2 separate regions of the Homo sapiens genome follow, and region 1 is linked to region 2. Evidence: fine-mapped expression QTL. A gene starts in region 2. The other region holds a variant in brackets. All regions are shown on one strand. Distances are from middle to middle.

Region 1 (5,504 bases), 25 kb before region 2:
CAATTAAAACAGGAAGAGGCAGGGGGAGACGAGGGGGTGCTGCGCCCAGAGAGAGGGTGCTAGGCTGCTGGCCCAGCAAGGCCTCAAGGGAAGCAGGGGTCCGCCAGGACCCCACCTTCAGACAGAGGCCTCGGGCTTGGGCCGTTTCAGGATGAGACGGGAGATATGTTCCAGGCCTGGGCACGGGACAAGCAGTCCCCCGAAAATGCTGACCAGCTCCCGGTCTGCAGCGTGGGTGCCCAGGTGGGTGGTGGGTAGACGTCCTGGGGTGCCGACGGTTGACTGGTTCTGGGGAAGGGCCGCGCAGCCCTGGGGGATCCCTGCCCCACCCTGGACTGGACAGGACTTGGGAATGGGCTGGCAAAGCCACCCCTCAACCTGATGAAACCCCTTGGAGCACCCAGACCACATGCCTGAGGACAGGCTCAGACCCCAGGCTCTGGGGGTTCCCGGGGGACTACCAGAAGCCCCAAGTCACCCCATAAAAGCCTCCCAAGCCCCAGTGGCCAGACTCACACCCCACTTTCCAGACAGAAACCAAGGCTGGGATAGCTGCTGGCCACCAGCAGCCGCCCCACCCCCACCTGCAACACCAGCCCAGCTCAAGACAGGCCTGGGGCCTCCACCCTGGCAGGGCCCACGGAGGGCCCATGAGCCCCAACACTCTTGCCTCAGGGGGCCTGGGGGTGGGAGATGCCCCCTCCTCGTGTGCACGCTCACCTGCCCCTCCCTGAGCAGTGCATCAGCCAGCGCCAGGCTGGAGGTTGGAGGCCGCCACCCTTTTACTGGCTGGCTGGCAGGCAGGAGGCTGTGCTGGGGAGATGGGACACAGCTCCCTGCCCAAGGGCCAGCATGGCTGCTGGTGCCCCAAGATTCAGGCCAGGCCTGTCACTGGTGTCTTCGGTCCCTCTGGGCTCCACAGGGTAAAATCCCCTCAGAGCAGATTCCCCCCACTGCTGGGGCCCCACAAGTCCCACACACGCTCAGGCCATCCTGGGGAGAAGGCAGGCTCTGTCCTTCCCCGGCCTTCCAGAGGTAGCATCTCCGCTTAAAGTTCAAAACAGAACGCTGTCCGGAGGCTGCCAGCGCAGGACCTATCTTGGGAAGCTCTGCTGAGCCATTGGCTCCTGGTGCCTGCTGAGCTCTGACACCCACGCCCAGAGCCCCTCCCCAGCAGGCCAGGCACAGCGCACAGGGGAGCTGGACAGACTGGGTGCAGGAAGAGGGGTCACCCCTGTGCTCTGGGCCCCAGGATTGGGAGTACCGAGGCAGGGGCTGACTTGCTGGCTCTGACCACACAGCCCCTCGTGGCTGCAGGGAGCCAATAGGAGACCTGGGCACAGTGCCCAGCCTGGGTGTGGCTTCTGAGCAAAGCCAGCCCCAGAAGCAGCTTAGGGTGATAGGGGAGGCTTCCCAGGAGACCAGGAAGAGGCTTGGGGGTGGCAGCCAGCACAGCCCGGTGGAGGGCGGCCCGGAGACGCACCAGGGGACGGATGCATGAACCTGAGACGTGTGAGTCAAGTTGTGTGTGAGCCCGGGATGCATGGGAGCTGGGGTGCATGTGAGCAGGGGTACATGGGAGCTGGGGTGCGTGTGGGCCCGGGGTGCATGAGTGAGGGTGTGTGTGAGCCGGAGTGCATGTGGGCCCGGGGTGCGTGTAAGAGGGGGTGCGTGTGAGCCCGGGGTGCGTGTGAGCCCGGGGTGCGTGTGAGCCCGGGGTGCGTGTGAGGGGGGTGCGTGTGAGCCGGGGTGCGTGTGAGAGGGGGTGCGTGTGAGCCGGGGTGCATGTGAGCCCGGGGTGCGTGTGAAAGGGGGGGTGCGTGTGAGCCCGGGGTGCGTGTGAGCCCGGGGTGCGTGTGAAAGGGGGGGTGCGTGTGAGCCGGGGTGCACGTGAGCCAAGGTGCGTGTGGGCCAGGGTGTGTGTGAGTGGGGGTGTGTGTGAGCGGGGATGAGTGTGGGCTGGGGGTGGGTGTGTGAGCCTGGGTGCATGTGAGGGGATGCGTGTGACCTGGGGTGCGTGTGAGCCGGGGTGCATGTGAGCCCAGGGGTGCGTGTGAGCCAGGGCACGTGTGAGCCCGGGGGTGCGTGTGAGCCGGGGTGCATGTGTGCCGGGGGTGCAAGCTGTTGGTGTGAGCCCGGGGGTGCGTGAGAGCTGGGGTGCATGTGAGCGGGGATGCGTGTGACCCAGGGGTGCGTGTGAGCCGGGGTGCATGTGTGCCGGGGGTGCAAGCTGTTGGGGGTGTGAGCCCGGGGGTGCGTGAGAGCTGGGGTGCGTGTGAGCGGGGATGCGTGTGACCCAGGGGTGCATGGGAGCCGGGGGTGCATGGGAGCCCAGGATGCGAGCCGGGGGTGCGTGTGAGCGGGGGTGGGAGGCGAGGTGCATGCAAGCGGGGGTGCATGTGAGCCGGGGTGCGTGTGAGCGGGCGTGAATGTGAGCCAGGTGCATGGGAGCCTGGGGTGTGTGGGAACCGGGGTGCATGTGAGCGGAGGTCCGTGGGAGCCTGGGGTGCGTGGGAACTGGGTGAGCAGGGTGTGTGAGCGGGGTG[C/TGTGAGCGGGGTGC]GTGTGGGCCGGAGTGCGTGTGAGCCGAAGTGCGTGTGAGCAGGGGTGCGTGTGAGCCGGGAGTGCATGTGAGCCTGGGGTGCATGGGAACCGGGGTGAGTGTCAGCGGGGGTGGGATCCGGGGTGCATGTGAGCCAGGGTGTGTGTGAGCCAGGGTGGATGTGTCTGGAGTGTGCAGGACCAGAGGCCAGCTCCGTGGCAGAAGTGCCAGGGGACATCCCTAATTAAGAGAATCTGTCCTCACTGGGAGCACTGGGCTTGGGGCACAGCCCCAGGGTGGGCAGGGGTCTGCCAGCTCTACAAAGATGCCCCCACTTCCCGGGGGACCTGGCCCTGCTATGGGATGCACCAGCAGCTGGGGGATGGGCTGTCCAGGGTGCTGACTGTGAACGCGGCGCCCCCACCCACCCCTTTGGAGAGGTGTCCCTCGTAACATTCTGGAGCACAGGAGAGGCCTGGACAGGCAATGGCCCACTCAATGGTCCCTCCAGACCGTCGGGCACAAGGTCACACACACCATGTACAGACAAGGCCATGCGGAACTGAGGGGCATTCCCGAGCACACAGGAACCCCAGCCTGCCCCTGGGCTGTCCCCATATCCTCCCGCAGTTCCCAGGTCTTGTGGAGGGGCAGACAGGGCACCAGGGGGACCCACAAACGGCCTGACACCATCACTGCCCCAAGAACTGGGCAGAGAAGGGATATGGCCCTGGGTCCAGATCACCAGGTGATGAGGGCAGGAGGTCAGAGGGAAACGAGGCCCCAGGAGAGGAGATGGCCATCAGCAGCTCAGAGTACATCCTGGCCTCAAGCGCCAAGCAACCCCACAAGTCTCATTCCAGACGAAATGCCCAGGCTGGGGGTGAAGGTCCCTGAACTGAGGGGAGGTGCTAGCACAACAGAGAAAACTGTCATTTAAAACCCAAACTGGGGCCGGGCGTGGTGGCTCACACCTGTAATCCCAGCACTTTGGAAGGCCGAGGCGGGCAGATCACGAGGTCAGGAGATGGAGACCATCCTGGCTAACACGGGGAAACCCCGTCTCTACTAAAAAATACAAAAAATTAGCTGGGCGTGGTGGCAGGCACCTGTAGTCGCAGCTACTCAGGAGGCTGAGGCAGGAGAATGGCGTGAACCCAGGAGGCGGAGCTTGCAGTGAGCAGACATCATGCCACTGCACTCCAGCCTGGGCGACAGAGTGAGACTCCGTCTCAAAAAAAAAAAAAAAAAAAACCCAAACTGCCTGCTCCATCTGCCTCTGCCTTCCAAGGACGCAGACCTCTCCTGTCATCAGGAAAATGAGCTGTTCCAAGCTCCCCTCGCCCCATGGGGATGTGTCGAAGGACACAGGGAGGACATGTGCAGAGTGACTGGTGCCATGCCAGGTGTGGGAAACCCCGTTCCATGGGGGCTGGGCAGGAAGGAACCCTACACCTCCAGCCCTGGGCCCCTCCCACAACTGCCCCAGCCCTGGTGGGAACTGATTTCCCTAATTAACACTCCACGAAACATCCTCACCTCCACCGGAGACGGCAGGAAAGAGACACCCACTGTCACCAGACGGGCTCGGTCACACACACTGTGACAGACAACAGCCCACGTTGCCACAGACGCCTCACACCATCACACGTGGCCACACGCGCGCGTTACCGCCCTGCAACCTGGCGTCCCCCGGGCCCCGAGGCCCCAGCGTGCTGGCAGACCCACACAGATAAAATGCGTGCACGTGGTTAATAAAATTACCTGCAATTTTGAAAGTGTTTCTGCATATGCAGCTTTTAAAACATTTTGGCAGGAAAATTATAGCCTCAAAGCGCAAGAGAAAATGGGCCCCATTAGCTTGGAGACAGAAAATCAAAAGCAGGATGAGCAGGGCTGAGGCCAGGAGGGCCAGGTCCCTCTGGTCAAATGCAGCCAGATGGGGAGCAGCTAGGGGTGTGGCTGGCAGCCTGCGCACCCTCCCAGGGTCCCACCCAGCATCTGGGCCTGGACCCGGAAACCAGAGGAGCTCCCTCCCCACACGCTCAATACAAATAGGAATAGGCTGAAAGCCTCCCTCCCTCACTGCTGCCCCGCCGCAGGCCAGACACAAGCTCAGGTGGGAGGTTGACCCCGCCCCATGACAGCTGGGGAGAGGAACCCTAGGAATGATGGCAGCTGGGGGAACAGCCCAGGAGAGGGGCTCCGTCCCAGACCTCTTCACCTCCAGTCAGCGGTGCCTGGGGCCTGTCCTTCTCCCAGACATCAGCTCACACTGTCCACTGCCCAGAACCTGTCCCCAGGACCTGCGTGAGACCATCTCTGGCCAATGTCCGTCCAGCATACCAGGCCCCAGGCTCAGTCCATCAGACACTCGCTCACCCTGATCTTCAGCAGCAACTGATGGCTCTGCCCAAGATTAGGAGCCCAAAAGGCTTGGAGGGCCGTCCCTCAGCACCCACCCAAGAGGCTCGGGGGGCCGTCCCCCAGCGCTGGGCGTGTGCAGGTGCTGCTGAGGCCCATGCATTCTCTGCTCTGCCCTTCTTTTCCAGTCTGGACAGCCCACCTGAGCCTCTTGGGCAGGTGCTGCGGGACGGCCCCCTTGAGCCTCCTGTAGGCCTTGGGCAGGGGTGCAGTCACTGGAGTCCATCGAGTATGCTCCCTCCGGGCCCACGGGGGCCACGCTGGCCAGCTCTCAGCCCTCAGCCCACTGCCCCTCTGGCCATGCGGCTTTGTGGCAGATGGCTGGGCTGCCAGCCACGTCCTTGGAATAGGATGGGGGGCTGGGTCCCTGCAGGGGCCAGGGCTCTGTCCAGACACAGGGATGCTAGCAGCCAGCACAGCCTCAGGACCCTCTGGGCTGGCGGGAACGTCCCCGTCATGGCTGGGATGCTGGTTTCCAGGGATGACAAGTCTGTCCACTTACAATCTGTGTGGCTCGCTGTGATTTGTTTCCTTAAAGCTGTGGGCCCTGAGCG
Region 2 (5,107 bases):
GGGAGGCCAAGGCAGGTGCAATCACTTGAGGTCGGGAGTTCACAACCAGCCTGGCCATTGTGGTGAAACCCCATCTCCATCAAAAATATACAAAAATTAACTGGGCGTGATGGTGGGCGCCTGTGGTCCCAGCTACTTGGGAGGCTGAGGCAGGAGAATGGCATGAACCCGGGAGGCGGAGCTTGCAGTGAGCCGAGATGGTGCCACTGCACTCCAGGCTGGGCGACAGTGAGACTCCATCTCAATAAAAAAGAAAAAAAAGAGGGGACACAGATACCCAAGCCAGCCCAGAAGTCGGGGCAGAGCCAGCCACTGTCCTGGGAGGCCTGTGAATGAGCCCCTGTGGGAACAGGACGTGTCACTTCCTAGCGACTCAGGAGCCCTGACAGCCAGGACAGACCCCTGGTGCCCACAGACAGGACAGGGGTCATGGAGGACCTCCCGCCATCACTGCTGACTCACCCCTGCTAGCGGCCGGGGGAGGAAGCCCTAGCGGGTACCTCCGGTGAGCTCATGCCAGCCTGCCCGCTCCCCACGGCATTCCCGGGGCCGCACGTCACAGGCTGGCAGGAGCCTATGGGCCTGCAGTAAGGGCGGAGGAGGCCACTCAGACAGCAGAGGGGTAGGGGCTCAGACAGGCCCCAGCTCAGCCCCTTCCTAAGCTCTCCAGGCCTGTTTACGGTCTGTTAAAGGGCAGCCCTTCCTTCATCCTGGCCGGGGTGGGGAGAATGGAGCGTGGAGGCAGGTGGAGCCTGGCAGACTGGGAGGGTTTTTCCTGGACAGGCGACCCACACCAACCTGAGGGGGCAGCACAGACAGGCTATGCCCCTCCCCAGATGCCCCGTGCCCGCCCGACCTGCAGCAGTGGGCAAGCTGTGAGCATGGGGAAGCCAGGGAGGGCGTGGGGTGCAGACAGCAGCTGAGCGCCCTGGGCCACGTTTCCAGACAGCACAGCCAGGTCTGGACTTTCGCCGCCCCGCCTGCTCTGCCCCACCCTGGCCAGCACTCACCAGCCGGGCTGGAAACGACTCCTCTGCAGGACAGGTGGACAGAAGCTCCCCAGGACTCTAGGCTAGAGGGGCAAGGACATGTCAGGTCACAGGTTACAGGTCTGGCCCAAGGGCCAGAGTGGGCCGGGTTCATTCTGGAGGCAGAGAGAGGAGTGGCCAAGCCCGGTATTTTAGTCTGGGCTAGGGTGGGGCAAGGCACAAGACATTTTGTTTTTTTCTTTTTTTCTTTTTTTGAGATGGAGTTTCGCTCTGTCACCCAGGCTGGAGTGCAATGGCACGATCTCAGCTCACTGCAACCTCCGCCTCCTGAGTTCAAGCAATTCTCCTGCCTCAGCCTCCTGAGTCACTGGGATTACAGGCACCCACCACCACGCCCAGCTAATGTTTGTATTTTTAGTACAGACAGAGTTTCACCATGTGGACCAGGCTGGTCTCGAACTCCTGACCTTAGATGTTCCACCCGCCTTGGCCTCCCAAGGCAGACGACATTTCGGGACAGTCTGATCCTGGGAGGGACCTCATACCTTCCCCCAGGTGCCCCACTCTTGGCCTTCGCTCCAGACCCATCACTGGCCCTTCCCCCACAAACAGCGGCAGCTACAGCCTGGGAAAGAGGCATCATGGAATGGAGCTGGAGGGGGACAGACCTTACCACTGAGCTGAGAGGGGATATTCACCCTCCATGAAGGAGCCAGGGCCTAAATACACGCAGGAAGGGTGGCACAGGCAGACCCTGCCACCAGCGGGGGGATGTGTCTGCCACCGGGGGGCGGGGTGTGCGTCTGCCACCGATGGGGGGATGTGTGAGCCCCTCAAGGACCTGCCCCTGGCCTGGCTGTAAGGTCCCAGGCTTTCTGGAGAAGTTGGTTCTGGGCACAGATGCGTCCTCCACCGCGAGGACACAGGCGACCCGCTGAGGAGTGGCCCCTCTTCCCAGGAATGCCTGGTCCCTCTGGACCCCCTGGGAAAGGGCCTTCCAGAAATAGTTGTCTGTTCCTCCCCAAGTCCCCGGGACCTGCACCAGGCCCCTGGGCGGCCCGCGCCCTATCAGGGGGAGCCCCAGTCAGGGGGACCTGGGACTCCGCGCCTGCCAAGCGTCCCCGGGGCACTGCAATGAGGTCACCGCCGCCGCCGACCCCGCCCGGCGCGGCCAATGGCGCGCCCACTTGCACGCGGGCGGGGGCTGCTGCGGGCGGAGGGAAGACTGCCGTGTCCAGGGACAATGAGCAGGGTGTCCAGGCTGCGCGTCCCGGGACCCCTGGGCTGAAGGGGGCCGTCAGGCCGGTCCAAGGGCCCGGGAGGCGCCTCTCCTTCCCGCTGCGCCTCCCCAACCCGCCCGGAGTCCGCCTCCCGCGGAAGGGCAGGCGAGGGAGCTGGGGCAGGCGAGGGAGCTGGGCCAGGCGGTGGGTGCGGCCTCCCGGAACCTCCCGGCGCCTGCGGCTGGGCCTCCGGGGCTGGGGCGCGCAGGGCCTTCGGCCCCCTCGCGCCCCTCGCCCCCCTCGCGCCCCTCGCCCCCCTCGCCCCGCTCGCCCCGCTCGGCCGAGCTGTCGTGGCCGCGCACTCACCTACCACGCGTCCGAGTCCGGGCCCTGGCGGCGGCGGCAGCAGCTGCGGGGGCGGCGGCTCCCAGCGCTGAGAATGCGCGGCCCGGAGCCTACGAGGGGGACGCCCCGCCCCGCCCCGCCCCGGCCCCGCCCCGGCCTCAAGCCCCTCCCGCGGCGGCGGGCGCTCGGCAGGTCTGAACCCGCGTGGGTGTAGGCGCTGGGGGTCGACCTGGCACTGCGGAGGCCGGGCGAGCTGCAGCCCTGGGGGCGCCAATAGCCCAGCAAGGGCCCATCCCGTCCAAGGACGGAGGAGCTGGGCGGGAGGCGGGCCCGGAGGTAAGACGGCGACCAGCCTAGCCAGAGGCCCTGGGCTGTGGCGACCCGGCCCTCCTCCATGCCCAACCCCCATCTCTTTCTCCTCACCCAGGAACCGCCCAGAGGCTGCAGGGGTCGGCAGAACCGATGCCGGCCTGGGGCGTGGGAGGGCCTAGCGCTGTGGGCAAATGCGGGAGAAGGGCTACTGTACGTGCAGTGTGGACAGCCTGGAGACCCGGGCAGGCCTGGGGTCCCAGCGAGACATACCCATGGGGTCCTGGGGGGCCCATGCCCTCCAGACTGGAAGGGACCACTGGGAGCGGTGCGAGGAGGTGAGGGACGAAGGGCAGGGCCGGCCTAGGGCTGCACCAAGACGCCAAGAGTGGGAGTGAGGAAGGAGGGGGCTGCCCACCCACCAAGCTCATTCATCACAGCCACAGGGGAGGACCAGCATGGGAGGGGGTGGCCGACTGAGGCCGGGAACCTGCCCGGCCTCCCTGGCGAGACAGTGGGGAGCCCTGATCCACACACTGGCGAGGGCCCCGAGGGGCTCCAGCCTTGATGGGTAGTGTGAGTTTGGGGCATGACCAGGGACACAAGAGGACACGCAGGACCTCAGCCCCATCGCCACAGGCCCGCGCTCCCTGTATTCACCCACACAGCACGCGTGCACAGGTGCCCACCTCATCCATGTGGCACACACAGGCTGTGGCTCCCAGACACACGGAAGGCCCAGGAGGACGCAGTGCAGTCAGTGGGTTTTATTTGACGAGGGGGTTTTCTGCTGAACTGAGATGGGGTTGATTGAACGGGGACAGAGCGAAGACTGGCAGAGGGCACACACGGGACCCTGGCCACTCCCGGGACCCTGACCACTCCTAGGCTAGGTCCTTCATGTCTTCAGTCAGGCGAGCCTGGGGCCCACTGGGGAGAGCCTGCATCCTGAGTGGGCACCCCCGACCCATGACAAGCCTCCTGCAAGGGCAGCTTCTAGCTCATGGTCCGTGAGTCACTCGGGGCTGGTCACCGGGCACTGGGAAGGTGGCCAGAGCCGCGTCTGGGGGGCCGAGCCCAGCAACAGCAGCAGCAGCAGGTGGGCCCAGGCAGGCGGGCTGTTGTCAGAGCCTTCCTGCAGCTGCTGCCCGCCCGCCTGGCCTCGCAGGCGTCCCTGTCATCCCGCAGCCGTGTATTCAGCTCCCTAGGGAAGGAGGAGTCCGACACTGAGAGGGTCTGAGGGAGCTCAAGGTGGGGGGAGGTGAGCTCCGACTCCCCTCAGAGCGAAGAGAGGTGTCTGGCTGAGGCTGCAGCGTGAGGGGTGAAAGGCAGGCATAAGGAAGGACTTCCAATGGAGTAGAGCGGCAGCCAAGAATGTTGGGGAGCTGGGAGCCCCCAAGCTCCGCTGAGCCCATTCCCTCTCGGGCCTGAGCCTGACCGTACCTGAGCAGCTCCAGTTGCCGTAGCAGGCTGACTTTCTCTTTCTGCATGTTCCTGGAGACGGCGACCACGTCTCTGTGGATGGGAGGTGGTGACCCGGCTGCAGGAAGGCTCCTTGGGGAGCCCCCGGACCCCCTAGAAGATCCTCCTTCCCACGGGGCGGGCCTGGGACTTGAGATGGGGATGAAAGTGGCCCAGACCTGAGCGCCCGTCGGCCCCGCCCCCGGGACACGCACCGGGGCCCGCCCAGCCCCGTCCCACGGCACCGTTGGGTTTGCTCCTGGCGGCCTCGTGCTTCGCTCTCCAGCCTGCGGATCTGCTCCTGCGCCCCCTCCAGCTGCGTTCGCAGCGCCTCGTGCGCCCGCCACAGCTGGGAGTTCTGGGCCTGTGCCTCCAGGTGCTCCGCAGCCTGGGCGTGCAGCTGCTGCTCTAACTGGAGGGTGGAAGGATGGAGACCGGCGAGGAACGCCCCCTCTTCCCCGGGGTGCTGCGCGTGCCCCAGGCTCCCGACAACCCGGGGACGCTAAGGCACAGGGGGAGAGTGCACGGGTGACCGTGGGGACAGGGCAGGGGCCGGGTGCTCACCTCCCGCTGCCGCAGGCCCGCGCGTTCCAGGTCCTGCTCGCGGCTCTGCAGCTCCAGCTCCAGACGGCTTCTCCGCTCCCCGCGGGCGAAGTTCTGGGACGCACGGAGGACCACTGAGCCTCCGCCGGCCGCTCGGCCATGCAAAAGAGGTACACGGAGGGCCAGGGGCTGGGAGTGGGCCCGGGCGGAGCGGGGTCGGGTGGAGAAGACCGGACGGGG

Evidence for each region. PIP is the estimated chance that this variant, and not a neighbour inherited with it, causes the effect.
Region 1: its variant is the best candidate, but not a certain one, in a credible set for the expression of CD151 in whole blood (INTERVAL, PIP 0.83).

Annotation. Positions count from the first base shown.
Region 1 is chr11:855,677-861,180 of GRCh38, reverse strand. All of the region lies in intron 3 of TSPAN4 (tetraspanin 4), which reads right to left. Among named protein-coding and RNA genes, the nearest start is that of TSPAN4, 16 kb to the right of the region's middle. RefSeq lists enhancers at 121-655, 656-1,188, 1,189-1,722, 1,723-2,256. The variant C/TGTGAGCGGGGTGC (reference allele first, on the strand shown) is at 2,547.
Region 2 is chr11:830,495-835,601 of GRCh38, reverse strand. It overlaps CD151 (CD151 molecule (Raph blood group)), which reads right to left and starts at 2,650. Exons shown (of 9, transcript NM_004357.5): 1 at 2,576-2,650; 2 at 1,011-1,072. It overlaps CRACR2B (calcium release activated channel regulator 2B), which reads right to left. Exons shown (of 9, transcript NM_001286606.2): 6 at 4,889-4,981; 7 at 4,570-4,736; 8 at 4,307-4,378; 9 at 3,616-4,067. The coding sequence ends at 3,893. RefSeq lists enhancers at 714-1,253, 3,410-3,947, 3,948-4,487 and silencers at 2,085-2,314, 2,325-2,974, 4,827-5,107.